Regions from separate parts of the Homo sapiens genome. Here regions 1 and 3 are each linked to region 2. Evidence: fine-mapped expression QTL. Tissue or cell type: cerebellum. Region 2 holds a variant in brackets; each other region holds the start of a gene. All regions are shown on one strand. Distances are between the middles of the regions.

Region 1 (8,106 bases), 35 kb before region 2:
AAGAAGGGAACTACATAAGGGTGTAAACACCAGGAGGTGGAAATCATAGGGGCCTTAAAATCTGTCCACCACACATACTGTTATTCATTACTTCTAATTTTATTGCACTGTGAAATTTATTGAGCCTCCCTTTAAGATCTAATACACAGTTTATGTTTTTACTTTAATGTTTCACATGTACCTGAAAAGAGAAAGGACATGTATTCACTGTTTGATGGAAACGTATATGAGTTATAAATATCTAATGGCTCAAGTTTATTAATTAAATTGTACAGACCTTGTATATTTGCTTTCTGTGTGTATGTGTGTTGGGAGAGGAGAGGAAGTATCTACTGTCTACTTGATCTATTGGATACTGAGAGGAGCCAGTTAAAAATCTCCAACTATAATTCTGATTTATCTGTTTCTGCCTAAATTTCTGTTAGCTGCTGCTTAATAAATATTAAAGCTGTATTGTTGGGCACATTTATGACCTCCCTTATGAACTTTCTATCTTAAGTTTTATTTTGTCAGGTTTTAAAATTACTACATGAGCTTTCTTTGGTTCACATTTGCACTATATCCTTTTCAAGCCTTTTAACCTTTTAGTGTCTGTTTTACACAAGTTTCTTGTAGAAAACATATTGCTGAATCCCTTGCTTTCATTCAATTTGAAAGACTGTTTTTCTTAATTGGTTAGTTTAAGCCACTTACATTTATTGTAATTGCTGCTCTATTTAGGAGGCAGCATAGAATAGCTCTAAGTATGGTTCTAAGTATGGGTTCTAGATCCAGACCACCTGGGTTCAGGCCTTGGTTCTGCCACTTTCTAGCAAGTTAGTTAATCTCAGTTTCATCATCTATAAAATGAGGATGATGAAAGTAATAGTACCTTCCTCATAAGGTTATTATGAGGATCAAATAAGAAACACCCAGAAAAGTATCTGGAACATATTAGGTACACTGAAAGTAAAAATTATTATTAGTAATTTTATTTCTGCTATCAAATTTCATATATTCTAATTATTGCACTTTCTTTTTATTCCTTTTTCCTCTGCTCTCTTGCCTTTCATTTGATAAAATTTTCTTCCACTGCTTTAAAAGTTACATGTTTTATTCTTTTTTAACGGTAGTTACCCTTAAGACCTACATTCACAAATATTTATCCCTATTGATTTATTAAAGTTAACAATTTTTTTCGTCTTCCTCCCATATGATAGTAATTTAACCCAGTACTACTCTAAGTACTCTAAGTAGTACTGGGTTACTTATCTCATCCATTCCAGAATGAGATTTGAGCCCACATGTAAATCAACACACAGCTTCCTTCATTGAGAAAGTCTTGCTACGAAAGTGTCAGCTGAATCAAAGAGTTTGCTTATGACATAGCTGATATGCATTCTGGTACAAGCTCCTTATCTCTTAGAGAACAATTAAGTTTTGTGAACCACCCTTTGAATGGCACTATTTTAGATCACTGTCCTATCATTTTGGCCTCTCATTCCTGAGTCCCACACCCCTCACAATATTGATATTGTCTATAATTTTAGGTCTGAATCATTATAAATACACTGTTCTTTGTTTTTAGACTTTTGAAAAGAGTTTTTGTAAGTCAGGTTTAATGAAATACAGTTTACATACAATAAAATTCACCTTTTCTAGTGTACAGTTCTACAAATTTTGACAAACAGATACCACTGGGTCATCAGTACCATTCTCAAGATAATGGAATATTTCCATCACTTCAGAAAGTTTCTCCAGATTCCCTTCACCCCCAGCACCTGACAACCATTGATCTATTTTCTGCCTTTTCCAGAATGTCACATAAATGGAATCATAGAGTAGCTTATTATATCTGACTTTTTTTCACTTAACATGCATTTGAGATCATCCATGTTTTTGCATATGTAAGAAGTCTGTTCCTTCTTAATGCTTAGTTGTATTTCATCGTATAGATGCATCACAGTTATGTATAGCCACCCACCAGTTCCTGGACACTTGGGTGGTTCCTGGTCTTTTTTCTAACACAACAATAAATTCAGCCTAAATATTTGGCCACTCTCATGCTATATCTATTGTATCATCTCCTGAATTTGTTTCTCTTCTTGCTTGATTATGTCCTCCAAGAATGTCATTCAAATGAATCTTTCATAAGAATATTTTTATTATTAATACATTCTCACATTCTAATGACAATATGGCTTAATAGAAAATAAGTTCAAAGTTATGCTTTTAAATACTTACATATAGAAACATTTTGCTTGAGATAAACCTTTTCAATCTGAAGGTTTTTTTCTACCTTGAAATTTATCTCCATTATATCTTCAAATATTTCCCCTTCTCTGTTTTTATATTTCTTCCTTTCTGTTCTAGTTTTACCCTAGATATAAGCTAGAAAATTTACAAATAAGCTAACTTGTTTTTTAAAACATTTTCTACTGCCTCTGGAGGTTTGCTGAAAGTGCTCTTCCAATTACTAATTCATCGTCAGCTGCATCTTTTAGACTATTGCACATTACTAATACGTAGCATCAATATTCATTCTAATTATTATTTTTATGCTTAATATGTTTTAGTTTCATATTTTTTCCTGATTCATATTGCTAATATCATAACTCATTTTAAATAAATTTATCATGCTTATTTAAAAATCTTGGTCCATCTGCTCTACTGATCAGTTTCAGATGGCATATGTTATTCAGTTGTGGTCTTTTAACAGTAGTTGCACTCCTCCAGTGTCTAATTCTTTGTCCTATGAATTCATGTTCCCCTGGGGTTTCACCTACTCTGTCTGATAAACATGCATCCAGGAAGGCCCAGTGAGTTTGCAGTGGGAGGGTGGTGTGAGCCCAGAAGGAAATCGCTGGCACCAGAGAACCACTGTCTATCATTCCCAGTTTCTCCCACTTACCCAGATCTTTCCTCCAGTCAGGTTTCTACCCTTAGGGAGAAGCAGCACCTAAAGGAAGCAATTAACCTAGCAACCCTAAGGGTGGCAGGGGGAAGGGTAGAGGCTTGATTGAGAGGAGGTGGGGGGAGGTCGGCCTGCAGTTTTTTTTGTTTTTCGTTTTTTAAATTCCTCACCCCAACAGTGCTTTTGCGCTGGTCTGACACTACCTGGAAAACTATGCCACCAGTCGCTTCAGTGGACACTACCATTTCAATTGCGAAGTCAGGCAATGATTGTCCTAAGGCAAGGTGGGAGAGAAGTCAGAGTAAACCACCTCGAGAGCGCCGGTCTCCCGGAGTGTCTGGGTTCGACTCCTGCCTCCACAACTTACTGGGTCTCCTCGAACAAGTTGCATCACCAATGGCCGTGCCTCAGTTTCCCTCCTCCGTAGATTAGGAATAACAATAGCAGTGAGAACAGAATCCAGCACACAGTAAATGCTGCTTACCTGTTTGCTATGTGGAATACGCCACTACACTGTTGCTCGGCCCTCAGGAAGGGTCTGCTGAGACTTTCTACTTCCTGCTCAGGGCAGAGGCCGACCACCCGCCCAAGGTCGTGGCGGCGCCGGCTCAGCTTTAGTCGTCAAAGTGCACATCCTGGGAGCCGCTGCCTCGAGGTGGTTGAGGCGAGAGGGCAGGGAAGCGTCTGAGCCTCTTCCTCCCACCAGAGCAGGACCCCAGCTGACAGCGGGTGAGCTGGGCAGAAACCCATGCCGGGAAGAGGCGGACCCAGTGGACCGCAGCGCCCGCAGTCGCCGGGCCAGGCGCAGAGGCGAACGGGAGGCGGCGCTGCACCGTGCCCGCCCCTCCCCGGCCCGGCCCCGGCTCCAGCCCCAGCCCCAGCCCCAGCCCCGGCCCCGGCCCCGGCTCGCGGGCGCTGCGTCTCCGCGTACAGGAGGCGGCGGCGGCTCCCAGTCACCGGCCCCCGCCGGCGAGCGCACGATGCACTGCCTGGGCGCCGAGTACCTGGTAAGCGCTCGCAGCCTCGGCCCTCGGGGGAGGAGCCCCGGGGAAGGGTCGAGTCCCCCGCCTTCACGCACCTTCCCTGCCGGACGCTTCCGCCTTTCCCGCGCCTCGGGGATCCCGCCCCCGCTTAGTACCTTGGGGCCACCTGGCGGGGAGGAACCTGGACCCTGCTCCAGTGCTGGGGCGGAGGCGGGGGAGACGCGGGCCGCGGGGCGCAAACTTGGGGTCGTCCTCAGGTGCACCTCCAGGTAAGCACTTGGCGGCAGGGGGCTTAACATCCGCTCCGCGCAGAGCAGGTGTTTCAAAGGCTGTGTGAAAGAGCTTCAGGTGGCCACGTAAAAAAATAATATTAATTTTAAAAATTTAGAAAAAGATTGGTTACTTTGGCCCCTCTTCGAGTAGATTTGGGTTCGGTTTCCAGGTTGAGTCCACCTGTTTATCTTCTTTTTCTCAACTCTCCCTTTTTCTGGAAGGTTTCTGCAGAAGGAGCCCCTAGGCAAAGGGAGTGGCGACCCCAGATTTATAGGAAATGCACAGATACGGCATGGTTATTCCTGTTCTTTCTCTTTTGGACTGGTTTGGTAAGTGTGGGTGCTTGGTAGGAAAGAGGCCAGAGTGTGTGTGCACGTCTGGAAATAACTCTGTCCCAAATGTAAATCGTAGTTGGTGCTGCAGTGAGAGACTTCTGCCGTTAACCCACAATAAACATCAGTTTGTACTCGGGAGAATTCTTGTCCTAGACTCGCTAGAAAGGCTGTCTTTTTGCTACAGGCCATGTTCTAAGGGGTGACTCCATTAGGAAATGGGAATTAACAGTTTGCAATGTGATTGCTATTTAGTAAGGCCAATGTGTCTCCTTTTACTCTCCGAACTTACTGAACAGAAGTTCTTTTAGCACCTGCCACACCCCCAAATCAAATATTCCTCAAGCTTTTGGTGCACCTTTAACAAAGGAAAAGCCAGGGTAAGCCTAGAAATAAACTGCATTTCCTTTAGCTGAACATCACACACACACGCGCGCGAGAGATATGTTGTGTTTAGCAGCCAACACTGTTAACCATAGCTAACAAGGAATGATTTTTCCCACTCTAATTTCGAGGTATGTATGATTGCTGGTAAACTCCATCAGGCTATGCGGTTATAATCCTGAGAGAGTCTGTTGGAAGCCGAATCTTGCTGCTTTTATACTTATTTTAGAATTGTAGGTAACAGCAGAAAACGTCTCACCCGACATTTTCAAAGGCCACTTTCACGAAATCATCCATGCCAGGATAAGGCATGCTATTTGCTGCATGGTAAATGATTAATTTATAGAGCAGGGTAATAACTACCAGATAGTAATTACCTTTGTTGAAAAGAATTCCATCTGAATAGGCCCTAAAATATCATGTTTGTTCTTTCCAAGTAAGAAAGGCATTTGTTCACTTATGACCCGTTTCACATAGACAGGCTTGGTTACAGGCACAGTGGAAGGTTAGGTCTGAAACACATAATCAGATGTTTTTTGTTGCTTACGTTGGAACTCTCCCCTAGGAGCTGGGAGAGACAGTGCACCTACAATACCTTCTGCTTAACTTCGCAGATGGTTGGTGTTTTTATCTGAGACTGCTGTTGTATAAATGCAGGGAGCAGCTGGCCTGCCTTGTGCCTGGCAGCTTTGACCTCAAGCTGTTATTGTGATTTAATGATCTGCCGTAGCCCCTCCACAGCTTCAACCTAGGACCTCACTACCAAACTCTCAGCCCAACAGCTGAGAATCCTGGGGAAAATCTTTGTAGATGACCTATCACAGCCTGAAGAATTGTGAACCAGCTGAGAGGTGGCACGGAGCTGGAAACTGCTTTAAAATTACATTTCATTTGCAAAATAAGTCTGAAGTTTTAATATATCCAAGTTCTCACTATGGCATTCTGTTTTAAGAGTCAGAGTCCTTTCTTAGCTCACTGGCTTTTAGTGTCTTTTGCAACATTTTTTATTTGCAGGTATTTAAAACAGAGCAAGGAGTGTTTTGTTTTTGGACTTTTTTTTCTGCCTCTGTTGTTCAGCTTTCAGGTCTTGTGACAGATGTCCTGACTGGTGATGGTGTGCCCTGAGTTAGGGCTGGACAAAGGCTTGGGGGAAGGAGCTGAAATTATAAGCAGAGATGGTTCTTGCAAATGCAGCACCAGCCTGTGTTTATATTTGCATTAAACATAAGGAACAAAGTCTCAAAGTCTGGACTATCTCTGCCTCTACTTACCCCTCCAGTATCCTCTCCTGCCCTGCCTTTTCCTATCATCCCTCAAGATTCCATTTTCCTGATTTTGCAGGCACGGTTGACAGTGACTACCTTGGTGGCCAATGTACTAGACCAATGTACACACCTCCTATATCACCTGTCATATAGAATCGCAATTGCATGTTTGAAATTAGGACAATGAAGGTTTATAGTAGTAGTTTCTTGGAAGGCCGAGGCAGGAAGATCCCTTGAAGCCAGGAGTTCAAGACCAGCCTGGGCAATAAAGCAAGACCCTGTGTCTACAAAACATAAAAAATAATAATCATAAAGTCATAGTTTTATTAGGAGGGACTCAGGAATCCTCAGAAACCACTCCCACCTCTCCCACCCAGAAAAACTTTCCATTCTTCACCACAGGCTTTCCAAAGGAAAGAATGATGGTAAATGGAAAACATCACTTTGTTATTAGATTACTGGTGAGCTGGGCAGAAGCACATGACCCCTTTCCTCCCTCTAAATCCAAACACAGTCCAGACCTTACTACACTCCAACTCGAAAGGACGAGACAAGCATGTCAAGGCACAGTCAGCTTGCCATGCCAGCCACATTGGCAAACAGAGTCACACCTACTCCACAGCCTTTAGGTAAAGGGTGAGTGACACACACTACTAGCAAAGGTGACCCATTCATTCTAGAATCTGACCAGTTAGACTTAGGAGGATCTTGGAGAGTGGGAAAGGACAGGGAGCCTCCTTCCCCAGGAGGTCTGCAGCCCGTAAGTCCTGCTTGCCTTCTAGGCTGGGTTCCTGGAGGCAAGGAGTAGGTTCTGGTCATTCCTGTGTCTCCCAGTAAGAAAGTCTCAAGAACACACTGGGCACTTGAAGAATGTTTGTTATTTTGATTTCTAAATTAGTAATAAATGCAGAATGTCTAGAAGGTATTTGAATTTAGGACAATGTACCTTTGCAGCATAAGGTATCAATACTATATATTAATGAATAGTGTATTATATCTGTTCTCCTGGAATGAACTTGTCAATATAGAGTATTAAATGGTATCCTATATATTGCATACAGTACTGGGAAACTTACTAAGTTTGCATTATGGGAAGATACATATTCAATCTTGGCAGAGAGCCTGTCAGTATGTATTAATGGCACAGTTGTTTGAACTGAAATTTCAAATATTCCACATTCACTATGAGAGTGGATAAAAATGATGATAGATTGCAAGATGTTCTTGTCCAACAGAATTCCTGTGGTCCTTTATTTTGTATGTCTTAAGCAGTTACTCCAAAACACTATTTGCAGATTGGTGAACAGTGTTTCAGTACATATCAACTGTGTTGCTTCTGCAGAATCCCTTAAAAGTAAGAAAAGAAAAACAAAAAAAGTAGTAGAAAAAAAAAAAACCTTGGGGAAAGAATTAGCATAGCCCTGAAGCAGTTAAATTAAGCAAGAACATCAAGGGAAGAAAAATTGAATTGTCCCAGTAAAGTTAGACCAAAAAGAAAAATGATAGACTCTTAAGGAAAAGGTTAAAAAGCACAGAGGTAAGAAAATGGAGAGAAATCTGTTTCAGTGGATTAGATTCTCTCTCTACCTAAATGTATAAGTAGCAGAGGAGCAGGATGCTGATAGATGGGAGTTGCTGACACTGTTACTGACGGAGCAAAGCGCTATGATGCTGGAGAGCTTCACGTTCCACCAGGCTCCGTTTTATATCAGCATCTGCAGGGGTGTGGGGCACTGTGCGCTCAGCCCTTTGGCCAGGCTCTCATATGCCCCCGTTTTTGCCAGGTGTTTATCATGGGCTACTCGGTGGTGGCTGGAGCCGCGGGAAGACTCCTCTTTGGCTATGACAGCTTTGGCAACATGTGTGGCAAGAAGAACTCCCCCGTGGAAGGGGCCCCTCTTTCAGGGCAGGACATGACCCTAAAAAAGTAAGTATCTAAATAAGTCCCCAGTCTGTAAGGAACTGTACCTCAAAAC
Region 2 (8,106 bases):
TATTGCAGGCTGCCTGTCAATGAGATTTTCCTCTCTTTTTTCCTAATCCTCATGCTGCCAGAGCCGAAGCTGAAGCCAGTGGGAGACACAGGCAGGATGAATGTCAGCAGGCTGGGGCTGGCAGGACTCTTGGGCCAGTTTGCTGGACAAGGCCAAGTGCACAGAATGTGCTGGAAAGTAGAACCCCTCCAAATTAGGCCTGCTTCCCTTGGGGAATTATCCTGACCAGCTGGACTGCCTTCCATAAGGAACTGCCATCTATAACAATCATTATATCACCTTAGTCTTTTGAAATGCTTTAAAGCTTGCTAATAATATCCAGACTTACAGCTAACTGCACTATGAATATCTTTCAGATTATTTTGATGCTCTCAAGGAAGATCTCTAGAAAATTGTCTCCAAATCTCTTTAATAGAATATATTACTTGAGGAAGATATATCCATTCATTCATTCAATCAACAAATATTTATTGAATATTTACTGTGTGTCAGACCCTATTAAAAATGCTGGAGATACAGCTTTTCTTCCAATTTGGAGGGTAGAAGGAGACAGGCTTTAAATAAAGTAAGTCAGTCAATGTTATAGTACTTTAAAAGTTGATAAGTGGCATGGAGAAAAATTAAGCAGAAAGGACAAATAGGAAATGCATGAGGGGGCAGGGTGTCATTTTAAATTTGACGATCAGGGGTGCCTCACTGAGAAGGTGATGATGCAGAAAGATTTGAAGTAGGTGAGTGCAGAGCCATAAGACCATCTAAAGCAAGGGGAAACATCCCAGGCACAGAGGCTGGCAAGAGGCTGGAGTTCTAGGGCACAGCAAGGGAAGCCTATTCAGCGAGAGTGGAGTGGGCGAGGGAGAGCTTGGTTCAGAGGGGAGTCAGGGTGCACACAGTCAGATCCTGGGGCCTTTCTGGCCTTTGTAGGAACTTTGGCTTCTAACCTGAATTGGGAAGAAGTCTTTACAGGATTTTAAGCAGAATAAAATCTTGACCTGACTACATTTTAATAGCAGTGATTCAGTAAGAAGAGGATGGTGGCTTGGAATAGGTCATAATGTTGGAAGTGGCATGACATATTAGATTCTGCATCTATTTTGAAGGTAGAGCAAATTGGATTTTCTGGTTACATGAAAGAAAGAGGAGTTGGAGAAGACTCTGAGGGATTTTGGCCTGAGCAACTGGAAGATAACTTTGCCATAAACTGATATATGGGGCAAGAATTTGAGTATAGCATTTTAGGGGTAGATCAGAAATTAATTTTTAGTTGCTTTAATTGAAATGTCTTTTAGACCACCAGATGGAGATGTCAAGTAGGCAGTTAGCTATCTGAGTCTGAAGTTAGTGGAGGAGGTCCTGGCTGGGATTCACATTTAGGAACTTGGGAACATATTAATAGTATTTAAAACCATGAGATTAGAATGAATGTAGATAGAGAAGGGAAGAAATCCAAGGACTGTGCTTTGAGGCACTTCAGGATGCCCGGGAGATGAGGGAGAACAAACAGAGAAGACTGAAAGGGAGTGACCAGTGGGTCGAAGGAGAAGGGGTGGAGTGTGGGGCCCTGGAATGCAGGTGAAGGGTTTCACAGAGATGTGCGCGGTCCAGTGTGGCAAGTGCTGCCGCTAAAGGAAGAACTGAGGATTGACCACTGAATAATCATGATTGGAGTAGGTGAAGAGAAAGTGGGAGGAAAAGAATTGGAAAGAGTAAGTATAGACAATCTTGAGGAATTTCACTGTTAAAAGGAACAGAAATGGAGAGGAAGCTGGAAGAGGAAAGAGTCCACAGTAGATTTTTCTTAAAGATGGGAGATAGTTGCGAATGATTCAATAGAGAGAAAGATTTTGATGAAGAGGGTGAAAATTATTGAAGAGTTATGTTCACACAGGTTAGAAAGAATGGGATCTGGTGAAGTGTGGCCATAGGATCATGGGCCATTTATTAATATCATGTTCTGGGAGAGGACTCAGATTATGGACCCGTGTTGATAGCAGGTTAGGTGTGAGGTGGTCAGCACTAGCAGAGGTTTTCTGATTGCATCAGTTTTCTCAGTGAAACAGGAGGTAAGATCATGGGCTGAGAGTGAGGATGGGAAGGAAGCTCTTGAAGGTTGAAGGGGGAATTTATAAAACAGTTGGGCAGAAGAAGGGGAAACAAATGGACCAATATGGGAGCATGTAAGTTTCTGATAGTAACTCAGATGGTATCCTCTCTCTGATTTTTTTTTTTTTTGCCTCATTTATTGTTCCGCCTAATAGCTGAGGTCCAGCATAATACCAGCATGGAGTAGATGCTCAATAAATGTTTAAGTTAATTTCAGAATTGGAATTCTATCTACCTATATCTCATTTATAGCTAACCCTGTGTGGCACTCACTGTAGCTGACCCTATTGCACTTACTATTCTAAGAGCCTTACCTGTTTATTATACTTAACTCATAACAGCTATGTGTATTGCACTAAAAGCCACAAGACAGGACGAGATCACCAAGGGTGTGAGAAGTAGGTATTACCATTCTCCGATTTCAAGTGATGAAGCAGATTTCAAAAAAAGTCCCACTATTTGCAGGAGGTTGCTTAGGGGACAGTGCAGAGATGTGACTCTCAGCCTGTGTGACTCTCAAGCCCAAGCCAGTAATCACTGTCCCAAGTTCATCTTGCCTACTCTCTTCTTCACCATCAGAGAGCTGTGGCCCACATTGTTTGTCACACATTTCAAAGCTGAGCCTGGAACCAAGCCTTCTCACAATTCAGTGCTCTTCCCACCACCATCCCCTGAGATCTGTCATATCTTGGGATCTACCCATAGTCTACCTCCCATTAACACCCATTAGCTACCCATGATAGTAGCTGTAGTGCCCAGTCCATAGAGACAAAGCAACTGTCATGTGATGAGGGGATCTTGCCTGCATTCACACAGCCATCCAGGAGAGGGCAGTCATGTGTGCCTAAGCACGTCTACCCCACCCACAGGCTCTGCAACCGCAGACTCCGAGCTAGATCCAACCTGTTTCCCGGCTTTCGCCCTGAAGCCAGAGCGCCCCTGAACGTTTGTCTAAACCAATGGTTCTCAAGCCCCCCGCGCCCCCCGGTGACTTTTTGCCCCTGATATGGCATTTGGCAATGTGTGGACACATTTTTGGGTTGTCGTGGCTGTGGGAGGGGAGGGAGAGCTTCCTGGCATCTGTGTAGAGAGGCGAGGCTTGTTGCTAACACCCTCCAGTGCGCAGGACAGCCCCAGCCCCAGCCCCAGCCCCAGCGAAGATCTGGTCCACAATGTCGGTGAGAAACCCTGCCCTAAAGGAAAGTCCTAAACAGCCCCAGGAACAAATAGAAGATGGCTTTGATAAGGATGTTCAGAAACAATAGTGATCACTCAAAAATAACTTGCAGGTTCTGCTTCTTTGGGGAGTGCCAAATGCCATTCTTTGGGGGAATGCCAAATAATGTCTAAGCGGATCTTGACTCATCACTTCAGCTGCTCCCACCGCTGACTGTGCCAGGTTGGGAGGTGTGCG[T/C]ATATGTGCACTTGACAGCACAGGGCAGCTGAGAGGAGAGTCTGGCCCCCATTAGCGTCCAGGTCCTGTAGGACATACTTACCTTTGTCTGTCTGAAGAAATCATCCTTCCTGTTCTGTGGAAATATTCTCCGCCCGCAAACTATTCGTGATATTGTAAACCTAGTTTTGCAAAAGCATAATCTGTCGCTGATACTGCTGGGCCTTGTAGGAGGAGCAGGTACTTCTTCCCTGGCTCAGAGCACTTCTCATATTCCAGAGTGGTTCTCAGAGTCCACTGACCTCATCTACCTAACAGGCATTCTGTTTGGGAGGGGCCACCTCCTCTGGAATTGGGAATGTTTCCTGAAGCATGCCCTGAATCACCCCATCTTAGAAAACCATAGGCATTTATCCATGCCTTACCCAAAACAGAGATTGCCTCCAAGCCAAAGTGAGCCCAGCATTCATAAAACATTAACCTCTCTATAAATCAAGCTGTTCCACTGTTTCTTACAATGTAATTCTTGTTCAGCAGAACATAGAGCTTGGGAATTAAGATCAGCCTTAGTCAGTGGAATCAGTTTTTGATCTACAGCACGGATATCCTCCCCTTTCCTTCACACAGACCCTACTGTGAATATCTAAGGACTCCTGAATGACGAGCCTAAAGTCAATTTATAGCTATGGCAGGAAATATGAAACAATCTCTAAATGTTCTTCAAGCTATAGGTTTCACCAAAGACCAGAGCATGCATCTTCTTCCCAGTAGTAGTTGTTTTAAAATCCATAGTGGGAAAAGATCTAGAAATCATATGCAGCCACAAAGCTGGGATTTGGATTTACCAGTGAATTTACCAGTGGATTTACCAGCAGAGTAAATTTGGATTTACCAGTGGATTTACCAGCAGAGCTAATTCAAGGACTTCTTTAGAGGAGAGAAAAGAAAGCAGGGTATAGCCACGTGAATGGCAAAAAGTTGTTACGGTGACCTTGCTGGCCTCAGTTGAAAGTAGTACTGTGCTCCTGAAATTTAATGATAGTAATAAACCATTATCACTTATGGCGCGATATGTCTATGGGTTGGGCACTATACCAAGTACTTTCCAAGTACTCTCACTCCGTGCTCAAAATACCACCAGGAAATAGGTATTCTAGATAAGGAATCTAAAACTCCTCCAGGTATTCCAGATAAGGAATCTAAAACTCCAGGAAGCCAAATAACTTGTCCAGGGTTACCCACAAAGGGGTAAAGCTGGGATCTGAACCTGGGAAGGTTAACACTGAGGCCCAGTAGATATTTTAAATGTGCTAAGAGAGTTTGCTCTTGAAATGAAATCTGAAATAGATCCTTTTGAGATAACAAAGACCCTTGTCTCTTTTATAAAGTTTAAATTTTTGGTGAAGTAGGATTCTATAATGTGATACTAAAAGCTTTGTGTGGTTTCATCAACGTGCTGAGTTTGGTTTGCATCACAAAGTCATATGGTAGGAAAACTACGGATTTTTAGAGTCCCATGTGTTTAGGTTTATATTCTCCTTCTACTAATTTTGAGCTCTGAGACTTTACAAAAGTTACTTGCCTCTTCTTCTTCTTCTTTTTTTTTGGAGACTGGAATCTTGCTCTGTCACCCAGGCTGGAGTGCAGTGGCGTGATCTCGGCTCACTCCTACCCTCGCCTCCCAGGTTCAAGAGATTCTCCTGTCTCAGCCTTCCGAATAGCTGGAACTACAGGTGCCTGCGACCATGCTTGGCTAATTTTTGTATTTTTAGTAGAGGTGGACTTTCACCATGTTGATCAGGCTGGTCTTGAACTCCTGACCTCAGGTGATCCGCCCACCTCAGCCTCCAAAAGTGCTGGGATTACAGGCATGAGCCACCACACCCAGCCTACTTGCCTCTTCTAAACCTCAGTTTTCACATCCACAAAGTGGGATGAGTATTATAGCATATGTCAGGTGTCTTGGAAATTGCCTACCAATGGTCACTGTAATTATCACCGTTGGTGTTATTTAGAAGTTAAATGTGTGTTTTTGATTTTGATTTTTGTATATTTTAAATTATGGTGGGTACTTGATTTTGGCATTTGTTTTATGTAATGCCAAAGGCCAAGCATAAAGAAACATGGCTTGTTGAACCATGGTTCATGCTTAGGAAAACATTGGTGTAAAGCATGTTTGTGTTTGAAACTTTAGGAGCTGCCCAGGTTATGGAAGGCGGCCAAGTGGAATATAAGCCCCTTTCGGGCATTCGGTACATGTGGTCGTACCATTTAATTGGCCTCATCTGGACTAGTGAATTCATCCTTGCGTGCCAGCAAATGACTATAGCTGGGGCAGTGGTTACTTGTTATTTCAACAGGTAGGTCCAGTGTTTTTTTTCTATTGGTTTGTCTATGTGGTTTATCTATGTGCTTCATGTTAATATCTCAAAAGATATTTGGGAATGTTGACCTAGCCCCTTAAAAGAAGTTGGCAAGAATAAAAGAGTAAGCTAAAATTTGGGCTGTATTCTCATTTGGTGGTGAGAAGAAATATTACACCCTAAATCTGTCACATTTCCAACCTTTTTACTTTAAGCTAGAAAATTTAGAAAGAAGACAAACAGAAAAGAGATCATATTGCTTAGACTTGAAAGATAAAAAGGGGCTGCTCTGCCTATGGAGTAGCCTTTTTTTTTTTTTTTTTTTTTTGAGATGGAGTCTTGCTCTGTCATCCAGGCTGGAGTGCAGTGGCGCGATCTTGGCTCACTGCAAGCTCCGCCTCCTGGGTTCGAGCGATTCTTCTGCCTCAGCCTCCCAAGTAGCTGGGACTAAAGGCATGCGCCATCACACTCGGCTGATTTTTGTATTTTTAGTAGAGACAGGGTTTCACCATGTTGGCCAGGATGGTCTTGATCTCTTGACCTCGTGATATGCCTGCCTCGGCCTCCCAAAGTGCTGGGATTACAGGTGTGAGCCACCGCACCTGGCTGCCATTCTTTTAATATTAAAAAAAGGAAGGGTGGAACTCCCCTATGAATATCCATCCTAATTGACTTCAGACAAAAAAATTACTGGTCTATTTTGAATATACTTCAGTAAATTCTGTGAGCCTCAGTTTGTCCTCTGCAAAATCAGATAACATTTGCTTGGGGAAAAAAATTAATCCTAAAGGAATTGTATGTAATTACAAAATATAATTTATATTATAGTTAAGAACCAGTGAATTAGTTACACACTTCTCTGCTTATATCCCTATCACATCATGAAAGCAATTGAGGACACACACAAACACACACACCCCTGAACGCTTTACCTCTTCTGTGTGTGTGACTCACCCCAGGGCAGTGAGAGCCCTCAGGACAGAGGAACCCAGCCAGGGCAATGGCAGGACTGGGCTCAGAAAGAGAAGTTTACTCTTCATAGGGCTGATCCTCCTCCAGCCTCTCAGACCAAATGAGAGAGAAACATGAGCTTCATTGGGAGAGACTATCTGCCAGGGGTGATTCCTGCCATTGAGCAGTTTCCTCCTGATGATAAGGAGCACTGTCGGGTGTTTGTTTGTTTGTTTGTTTGTTTGTTTGTTTATTGAGACGGAGTCTTGCTCTGTCGCCCAGGCTGGAGTGTAGCGGCACGATCTTGGCTCACTGCAACCTCTGCTTCCTGGGTTCAAGTGATTCTCCTGCCTCAGTCTCCCGAGTAGCTGGGACTACAGGCGCCCACCACCACGCCTGGCTAATTTTTGTATTTTTAGCAGAGCTGGGGTTTCACCATGTTGGCCAGGATGGTCTCGATCTCTTGACCTTGTGATCCACCCGCCTAGTCCTCCCAAAGTGCTGGGAATTACAGGATGAGCCACGACACCCGGCCACCACTGTGGGTTTTTAATGTAGTGGTGCAGTTCCGGAGCCTCCATCATTAGAGACTCCAGAGGACTCACAGAGGGGCTGTTGCCCTTGGCATTGAGAACCTCCAAGCAGCCGGGGGTGGGTTGTGTGTATTGCTTCCTCCCAGGTAGGGGAGCAAAGAGAGTATTCTAACCAAATTTGCCAGCAGGTAATATTTGCCTGACAGTAATTTTGTGTTATCTTAGAATAACAAAATCAAAGCATTTTCAATGAGGACTTCTAATTTGGACTTCCAGTGAAGCATATGCATTTATCTCCTAATCTCTTCCCTTTCTCCAGCCACTCAAAAAATCATGAAAGATTGAAACAGGCACAAACACACCAGGACAGTAAGAAACAGAGAGGCAATGACAGCAGATAAGAAACACCAACCAAATGGTGAGAGCCAAAGAGAGGGAGGTGGAGCAGTGCCCTAAGCCCGCTGGAGAAAGCAGAAGCAGCCTGTCCGTGTGTGTTGGCTGCATGAGGAGGACAAATAAGATGCAGCCTGAAGTGAGCCACAGAATCCCAGAGAGGCTCAGGAATTCAAGTATAAAAAGTATTTCCAAAGATTAGCTGAAAGCCTTCCTCAGGAGTAGTTAGACCCCCAAATTCCACACCAGCTGAAGACAGGAAAATTTGTTCTCCAGAGAGGGAAAGCAGAGAGGGCCTGGACTTGGGGTATCAGGTACAGCTGAGGCTGGGGGCAAGTCTCTGTACTGAAAGCAGGGGGAGTAAGTGAAA
Region 3 (8,106 bases), 71 kb after region 2:
AAGTTTAAAAAGAAAAAAGCTAAGCCCACCAACACATTTTTACCAAGATTCTGGTGCTCTACCAGCAAGACAAGGCAAACCACCCTCGAGTGTAATTTATAGCTGGGTCACCCTGGGTTACTCTGATCAGAAGTACCCTCAGAGCAGCTGTGCGTCTAAAGCGCACCCGGCAAACAAGCTAGGAGGACTTCGCGGACACTGGTCCTATCTAATTATTACTGTATGATTGTTTAACTTCAACAACCAAAGATTTTGGTAATAAGCCTTTCAAGAAGGTTTTTAGGTGTTGAGAAATACCATTTTGTAATCAAGAAGATCCCGTGGGAAGCTGCTTTGCTCAAATCAGACATTCCAAGGGGGCAGAAGACTGGAAGAATGTGCATTCCAATTCCATGCTTCTTAATATTCCAGTTAGCTTCCTCCCAAAAAAACATACCGAGGTAAGATTATTTCAGCTCCCCATTTGTCAATTTATTTTTTCCACTTTCCCTGAGACCTGTAAGAAAGGTTCCTGCGGCATTTGCTCTAAACCTGATGAAGACATGCTTCACTGCGTCCTCTCTTCCCATCCAACTTTACGGGAAACTACCCCCAACTCCAACATTTTGCCAGGAAATACTGTGCTTCCCTTGAGTACCTGTTATGTTTTTTCATGGTTTACGAGGCACAGAGTTGTTTCACTTTTCATTTTGGTTCCCAAGATGCATTCAAGGGCCTGGTTCAACCTGTAGAATACCTGTAGGGCCCATTATTTTATGAGTGTTTCCATCCTCCACCGAACCATCCCTACCAGTGTCTGCATTTTCCCTGGCCCTTTTACTCTCTGATAGTTTTTGTAAACTCTAAGTTATTGATCATTTGGTGTCATTTTTTTCTTTGTTATTAAAGAAACTTTGTTCATATTCCAGGCTGAAAGACTGGAATTCTTAGGCTTTTTTTTTTTAAGGCTGTTTTCACACATCTTCTTGCCTATTAAAAAAAGTAAGCTTGTGTGTTCTGCCATGTATTATCATCTTACCAATCAAATGTCTTAAAGATTTTTCTCTGAAATTTTACTGATTAAAGTATTTAAAATCAGAGACTTCCTCAATTCATTGATGAAATGCTTTTACAGCTAGAATATTATATAACAAGACCAAAAGGTATTAATACAAACCAAATACTTAAAGAGGCAGGGACATACAAATCTTAGAAATATAATACTAAAAACTAATTTTCTGTTACTAAGAGCTAATAGCTACAATACAGTCACTGAGTTGAGTATAAGCCAGACACATCTCCACAACATGGTGTCTGGGGGTGGCAACTATTGTTTTCCCCCATTCTACAGAACAGAAGCTAGGAGAGAGATGTCAAGTAGCTAGCCCAGCATCACAGAAGGCAGGAAGTGGCAGAACGGGGACTAGAACTCACATATGCTAGACTCCCAGGTCCACTCCACACTGTCTCCCCAGGATGTTTCTATACTTCTTTGTTAAATGAGATGTGGGGGTAGATGGGGGGAATCTAGCATTCAAGCAATGTATCAATTATGCAATAAAGAAAAAGCAGGAAGGAATCAAAAGGTGTCAAACCACGCAATGTCACTTTTGTATATACCCACCTTTCACCCGGGAGTCCTGAGGCCTCAGTCAAAATGCAGCATCTCATACAAAGGCCTAGCAAACATGGCTATTTGATTCCCAGGCCCAGAACAGATCAGAAACAGTATGACATAAATAATCACAATGTCAAGAAGTGACAGGTGGGTAGCAAAAATGGGAGGAAGGGCTGGGCGCCATGGCTCACGCCTGTAATCCCAGCATTTTGGAAGGCCAAGGCAGGGGGAATCACCTGAGGTCAGGAGTTGGAGACCAGCCTGGCCAACATGGCAAAACCCTGTCTCTACTAAATAATACAAACATTAGCCGGGCATGGTGGCAGGCACCTGTAATCCCAGCTACTCGGGGCGCTGAGGCAGGAGAATCACTTGAACCTGGGAGGCGAAGGTTGCAGTGAGCTGAGATCGCGCCACTGCACTCCAGCCTGGGCGACAGAGCAAGACTCCGTCTCAAAAAAGAAAGAAAAAAAAATGGGGGGAAGGCGACAGACAGCAGAGTTTGTGTAGAACATCCCTAAGTACTTCACTCAACTAAGACATCGCTTTTAGAGTTAAAATTCTTAGAATAGTCCAACTTCTGTGACCTTGAGCAAATCTTTCTGAGCTTCAGTGTACTGATCTGTAAATGATGTTGGATAATCCCAGCAATCCTCCTCACCTTACAGGACTGCTCTGCTGTTAAGATCAAAAGACTTCCTATGAAAGAATACTGTCTGAAAGGACTACAAAAATGAAACGGGTTATTAAAAAATGGGTTTGGTGCTTAAAGGGATAAATCCACAGCTTTCATAACTAACTTTCCAAAGGTTCTAAAAACTGAGGTTTTACCGTTTTTAAATATTTACAATAATTACAGTGATCTAGCCTGTGTATGCATTTCCTTGGATCTGCTCAGTATTAAGCAGGAAAAGGGCAAAAGCTGCTACATTAGTCAGCAAAAAAGAAATTAGCATGGATATTATTAACATCCAAGAAAAGTAAGTCACTTGAAGGGCTGCCAACGTTATCAGTACCTCATTTACAATGCAAAAGGTAGTAGAGACTCAACTGCTGCCAGCCAAGAATCACTGGGGGGAATTACAATGAATGTGCACAACCAGGCCAAAGTATCACATCACATCCAACATTTTGGACATGCCCATTCCTCTGAAGTTTCCTAAAGTTCGGTTTGTAAATCCTGGAAGGAAGGAAACAGTAACTTGTTACAAACTTTTCAGTTGGTGAGGTTTGCACTCAATCATACACAAACCATTCACCTTTCTGCTCTCTAAAAAAATTGTTAGCAAACTGTTGTCTAATACGGGCAACACGTTTGAAAAGGTAAAGGACCTAAACATTTCAACTTTAGATACATAGACTAAAATCAACTCCTTGCTTCAAAGACAGTATGATGTGCAGACTAACAGCGGGAGACAAGAGCCACAACTCTCCCTTGGGGTTTGACAACGGTGCGCTTCATTACCTCTTTACATAATTCGCTTCACACCGCCTACCCCCGCAGCCCCGGGATGTTCCAGCTCTGACAATGCCAGTGCCTTCCACCAGCGGTCGGACGGTGCGGTGGCAATCCTGACATGCTTGGGCTCCCGGGAGGTTAATGGGAATTAAACCACAGGCAGCCCTCCTTTGTGGCGCTTTGGCCAGAACAGCAGAAAGGAGACAATGAGCGTTCTGTGCACAGTTCCGCGCCGATTGGCTGGTCTCTCCCCCCAGAAACCCCTGATGTCATGGGCTTGGAATGCAGGGAGGGAGGAAGGAAGGAGAGGATTTGGGGAGGGGGACGCCTCTCATCTCTTTCCCAGGCCAAAAGTCCTAAAGATAAACCTAACGCATTCTTGGGCTCAGTGGCAAAGCTGAGCGTCACCAAATCCCAATCGCTCCAAACTATAAGCCGCCTCAGCAAACAAGCCCCAAACAAAAGCAACCCACAAAAATAATCCTTTATGTCGTGAAAGTCTAATGTACTTCAAACTTCTCAGTGTTTCATAAAAAGTCTCAAGCCTAAGCAGATATCACTCGCACAGTGGCGCGCTCAGGCTTTGTCTCCATTTCCCGCAAAAGCAACAGCAGAAGCAGCAGCAGCAATCTGCCTCCAAATGCCTCCCAGGCACCGAGATCGGAGACTGTGATGGGTCCCGGACCGGCTTCCGTTCCTCGGGGCCCCTGGGGTCGGCGGGACATTAGGCGGTCTCTCTCCCCGTGGGGAGGCGCGGAGTCCGCCAGCACCCGGGGCCCGGGCAGATGGCGGGGGCTGCGGCAGCGGCTCGCCGGGTCCCTGGCCGCGCAGACGGGCTCCGCCTAAGGGCGAGTGGCCACGCAGGAGCGCCCCCTTCCCGGAGGGCGCGTTCTGCAGTCACCAAACGGCCCCCGAGACCCCCGCAGCCGGAAAGGCTGGCGCCGCGGGACTCCAGGCGCCCGGGAACCCACCGCCAGCCACTAGTCCTGTCCCACGGCGCGGGAACAAAGCCAGGCGGGTGCCCGGGAGCCGGCCCCGCAAGCCCGGGGACTGGACGCGACCGGGACAGGCAGAGACGCTCGCGCCGCCTCGACGGCCCCTCTCCAGGAAAACGGTGAGCCACAGCGCGAAGAGCAAACGAAGCACGGCCCAGCGCCAGGCCAGCCCAAGGGTGCCCCGGGGGCCCCCGCGCCCGCCCGAGCCAGGCGTACCTTGTTCTTGACTTCGGCCGAGAGCCCATAGGAAGGGCCCTTGTTGAAGTGGGTCATGGTGGTTCGGGCGGCGGGAAGAGACAGCGCTGGGGTCCGGGGTCTCTCGCACTTCGCTTCCCCGCTCCTGGCCCCGAGGAGTGGCCGCCGCGGGGGATGCTCGAACTCCCTCCTCTGGGAGGCGCAGGAGACGGCCGCGGGGCGCGGGCGGTGCCTGGGCGACTGGGTCCAACTGGGTGCTACAGAGCCTCGAGCTCCGCTGCGAAGCACCCGGCTGCCTCGCTCGCCGCCCGCACCTCGGTTCCCCACAGGCCGCCCCCGCCTCCGCCTGGGCCTTCGAGGATTGGCCGCCGGGCCCGACCAATGGAGGGCCGCCTCCTCCCGCCTCTGCGCCGAGGGGCGGTGCGGCCAATTGAAGGGCCGCGGGGGCCGCTTTCCCTCCCGCTCCCTCCCCGCGAGGTCCCCGGCCCCCGCCCCAGCCCTCACGCCACCGGGGCCGGCGGCTAGGCGGCCCCGCCCCCGGGCTAGGCAGGGCGCCTGGGGGCTTCCCAGCCACAGGCCATTCACGTCAACCTCCAGGCATCCTCCGCGGCGGGCCGGACCGGGCCGGCGGAGGGGAGCGGAAGCCCACCGGGGCTGGCCCGCCGCTGACCCGCCGCCTCCGTCTGCCTCCTCCCGGGCTCTGGGCCCAGCGCGCCCAGATGCCGGGCAGGACCCCTCCGCCCGCTGCTGGAACACCAATAGCAGCGTTGGAGCCTCTGGGCCGGAGGAACTGGGGCCTCCACCGACACCTGCTTCTTCCCTCACCTCGCAGCCTTCCACACCTGTTGATCTGACCTCTGCCCCGCTGCCGCCCAGGAGTAACCTAAGGCTTTTGGCCTGATTCGAGCTCACTCCGTCTAAACCTCTAAATGCGGTGCGAAAAAATCCTGGGGAATGTGCCATGCAAAGCCTGGGCATTTCAAGTGCTTTTCTGGATTCGCATCAACTCCTCTTTACAGGCATCTTTATCCGGAATTCAGCTCGTCCCAAACCCCACGTGGTGTAGCTCTGCTTGTGTTTTTGAATCCCGGGGCCTCTTTGAATCAGAAGCCCTTTGTATAGAGATAAGTATCCTTTAGGCCAGAATCAGCCTCCATTTTTTTCGCAGTCCCATTTCCTACCCGTAATACTTTCTTCTGATTTTAAAGCCATTTGATAGAGAAGGGACAGGGAACAGAACCTTCGCCCCCCGCCTGAGCAGCTGGTAGACTAGATATCTTCCAAACATTATCTCATTTACTTCCCTGGAGTTACAAATAGGTAGATTTCATGTCCGTTGAGGGGTGAGAAAGCTGAAACTTTGAGACTTAAGAATCCTGGCCGAGGTCAGCCTCCTCCGAAGCTTCATCTCTTGCCACCACTTTCTGGTGCACACCTAGGACAGATTTCAATCCCTGAGATCCCAGGATGAAACCTATGTTTGCCAAATACCAGCTACTGTGCCAGAAGAGATCATGGAACCAGGTGTGGAAAGCTGCTTGAGAAGAGGAGCCAAAACATCATAGTTGAACCGTCCTGGAATAGAAGTGAGTAAGGTGAACCAGGTGTGGTGGCTCATGCCTGTAATCCTAGCACTTTGGGAGACCGAGGTGGGAGGATTGCTTGAGGCCTGGAGTTCAGGAACATCCTGGGCAACATAGCAAGATCCTGTCTCTACAAAAAATCCAAAGTTTTTTTAAATTAAAAAAAAAAAGTGAGTAAGGCAGCTTGAACCGGAAATGCACAAAACTGCTATCCAGTTTGCAAGGCTTTTCCCAATGACTTTGAGGGATGGAACCTGAAGGAAGCGGGAGGAGGCAAATAGGGAGGAAAGTGAAATGATTTATAAATGACTTGCTAATTTTGTCCAAAGGGAGTAATGATAATTAGGGCATTCTTCCCACACGAAGATGACACAATTGACCCAATATCATTGAGGCTAACAGTTTGGGCTGTTTTTCCAGTAGTATGACAGTGACGGTGTGTCAACCGCAGGACCTCACCCACATTTCTTTGGGACCTAGGAGTGTGGGAAATAGCAGCCAGATTTGAGGTACAAATCATGGTGTCCAGCCTGCAAAGCCTTTTTGCAGCAATCTAAGCCTGACTGCTCCTGTTGTATGCTCAAAGTCATTTTAATCTACTTTAGCTTATTGTAAAATGTTCAAGAATTGTATTTTGTCTTGAAAACCATGAATTTTATTGTTTAGGGGGAGTTATTTTTTAAGGAGTGCAGGATTTCAGTTTTGGATGATGAAAAAGTTTTGAAGATGGGTAGTGACAGTGGTCACACAACATTGTAAATGTACTTAATGCCATTGTACACTTACGTGACTTTAAAGTAAACATGAAATTTTCTACATTTGTTTGTTTGATCAACTGTTATCCTCCCTAAGGTACTTGAAGTTCTTTCTGACATTGCCACTGGAACTTACTATTTAAATATTGTTGGTCCTCTTGGATTCCATCAGTACTCCAGAGACTTCCTTCGTTTCTAATTTAACTCATTGTGTAAGAATACGTAATGCTGTTGTTAGCACTAGGGAATGTATCTGAGTCTCATGCACCAAAGTGTGTTAGCAGCAGCAAATCTGTATGGGTCTGCAGCAACCTCAATTCTTGCCTCCTCCAAAGAAAGAATTCTACCGAGAGGCATAAGGCAGAGGGAGAGGCCAAGGCACGTTTTAGAGCAGGAGTGAAAGTTAGAGCAAGAATGAAACGAAGTAATGTACACTTGGAAGAGGGCCAGGCGGGCAACTTGAGAGATTCAAGTGCGCTGCTTGACCTTTGACTTGGGGTTTTATACATTGGCATGCTTCCAGGGGGTTGTGTCCCTTTTCCCCTGATTCTTCCCTTGAGGTGGGCTGTCTGCATGTGCAGTGGCCTGCCAGCACTTGGGAGGGACCACATGCTCAGTGTGTTAACTGAGGTTGTACGCATGCTCACTTGAGGCATTCTTCGCTTACTAGTCAAGTGTTCCTAGAAGAAGGTCATATATGAGTACCAGTTAAATGCCACCATTTTGCCTCTTAGTTCACACCTGTGAGCCCACTCAGCCAACTCCTAAGATCCTATCCAGAAGCTGCTGATCACCAGTTGTAGGTATTTTCTAGCCATTGGGAGACTGCCTTTCCCTGGTGCCGGCTGTGACCAGTTATTATTTTAGAGAGACAGTTTAACAACTGCCTGACCACCTGATGGTTGCGTGACATTCCTGGTGGGAGCGGGGAGCCCTCTCCTGCTCTGCTTGTGTCTGACTACCTACTGTGGCACTATAGAATCAAATGAGAAAAACTTAAAATTTGGGACAATTTTAACAGCTTTATTGAAGTATATTGATATAACAAAGTATATTTAAAGTGTTCAGTTTGATACACACATATACACATAGATACACCTATTTAAAAACCCATCACCACAACAGACAAAGGACATATTCATCATACCCAAAAGTTTCCTCATGTAGCCCCTCCCTCCCAGTCTTCCTTACCTCTCCACCCCACCAGGCAACCCCTGATATGCTTTATGTAACTATACATTAATTTGTATTTCCTAGAATTTTATATAATTGGAATCACACATTGTATATTCTGTTTTATCTGGCTTCTTTCACTCAGCAAAATTATTACGAGATTCACTGACGTTGTAGCATGTATCATTAGTTCATTCCTTTTATTACTGAGTAGTATTCAACTGTAGGGATACACCAGTGATTTTACCCATTCCCTTATTGATGAACATTTTGGTTGTTTCTAGATTTTGGCTATTGCAAATAAAGCTGCTATGAACATTCATGTACAAGTCTTTGTATGGACATATGC

Alleles and levels. Positions count from the first base shown, and alleles are read on the strand shown. Sizes are in standard deviations (SD) of each study's normalised expression. Not every link is listed here.
As copies of T replace C in region 2, the expression in cerebellum of the gene that starts at base 4,540 in region 3 goes down (moderate effect, 0.44 SD a copy in GTEx).

The links. PIP is the estimated chance that this variant, and not a neighbour inherited with it, causes the effect.
Region 1: it holds the start of SLC44A3, and the variant in region 2 is fine-mapped to the expression of SLC44A3 in cerebellum (GTEx, PIP above 0.99). The same link has a PIP of 0.9 or more in cerebellar hemisphere.
Region 3: CNN3 starts here. The variant in region 2 is fine-mapped to the expression of CNN3 in cerebellum (GTEx, PIP above 0.99). The same link has a PIP of 0.9 or more in cerebellar hemisphere.

The regions. Positions count from the first base shown.
Region 1 is chr1:94,816,579-94,824,684 of GRCh38, forward strand. SLC44A3 (solute carrier family 44 member 3) reads left to right here and starts at 3,779. Exons shown (of 15, transcript NM_001114106.3): 1 at 3,779-3,900; 2 at 4,371-4,478; 3 at 7,915-8,057. The coding sequence starts at 3,874. It overlaps SLC44A3-AS1 (SLC44A3 antisense RNA 1), which reads right to left and starts at 3,654. Exons shown (of 6, transcript NR_160780.1): 1 at 3,378-3,654. RefSeq lists a silencer at 3,783-3,972.
Region 2 is chr1:94,851,645-94,859,750 of GRCh38, forward strand. It overlaps SLC44A3 (solute carrier family 44 member 3), which reads left to right. Exons shown (of 15, transcript NM_001114106.3): 10 at 5,691-5,856. Among named protein-coding and RNA genes, the nearest start is that of SLC44A3, 35 kb to the left of the region's middle. The variant T/C (reference allele first, on the strand shown) is at 3,518.
Region 3 is chr1:94,922,571-94,930,676 of GRCh38, forward strand. CNN3 (calponin 3) reads right to left here and starts at 4,540. Exons shown (of 7, transcript NM_001839.5): 1 at 4,268-4,540. The coding sequence starts at 4,324. CNN3-DT (CNN3 divergent transcript) reads left to right here and starts at 3,790. Exons shown (of 3, transcript NR_168377.1): 1 at 3,790-4,170. RefSeq lists silencers at 3,648-4,077, 4,178-5,057.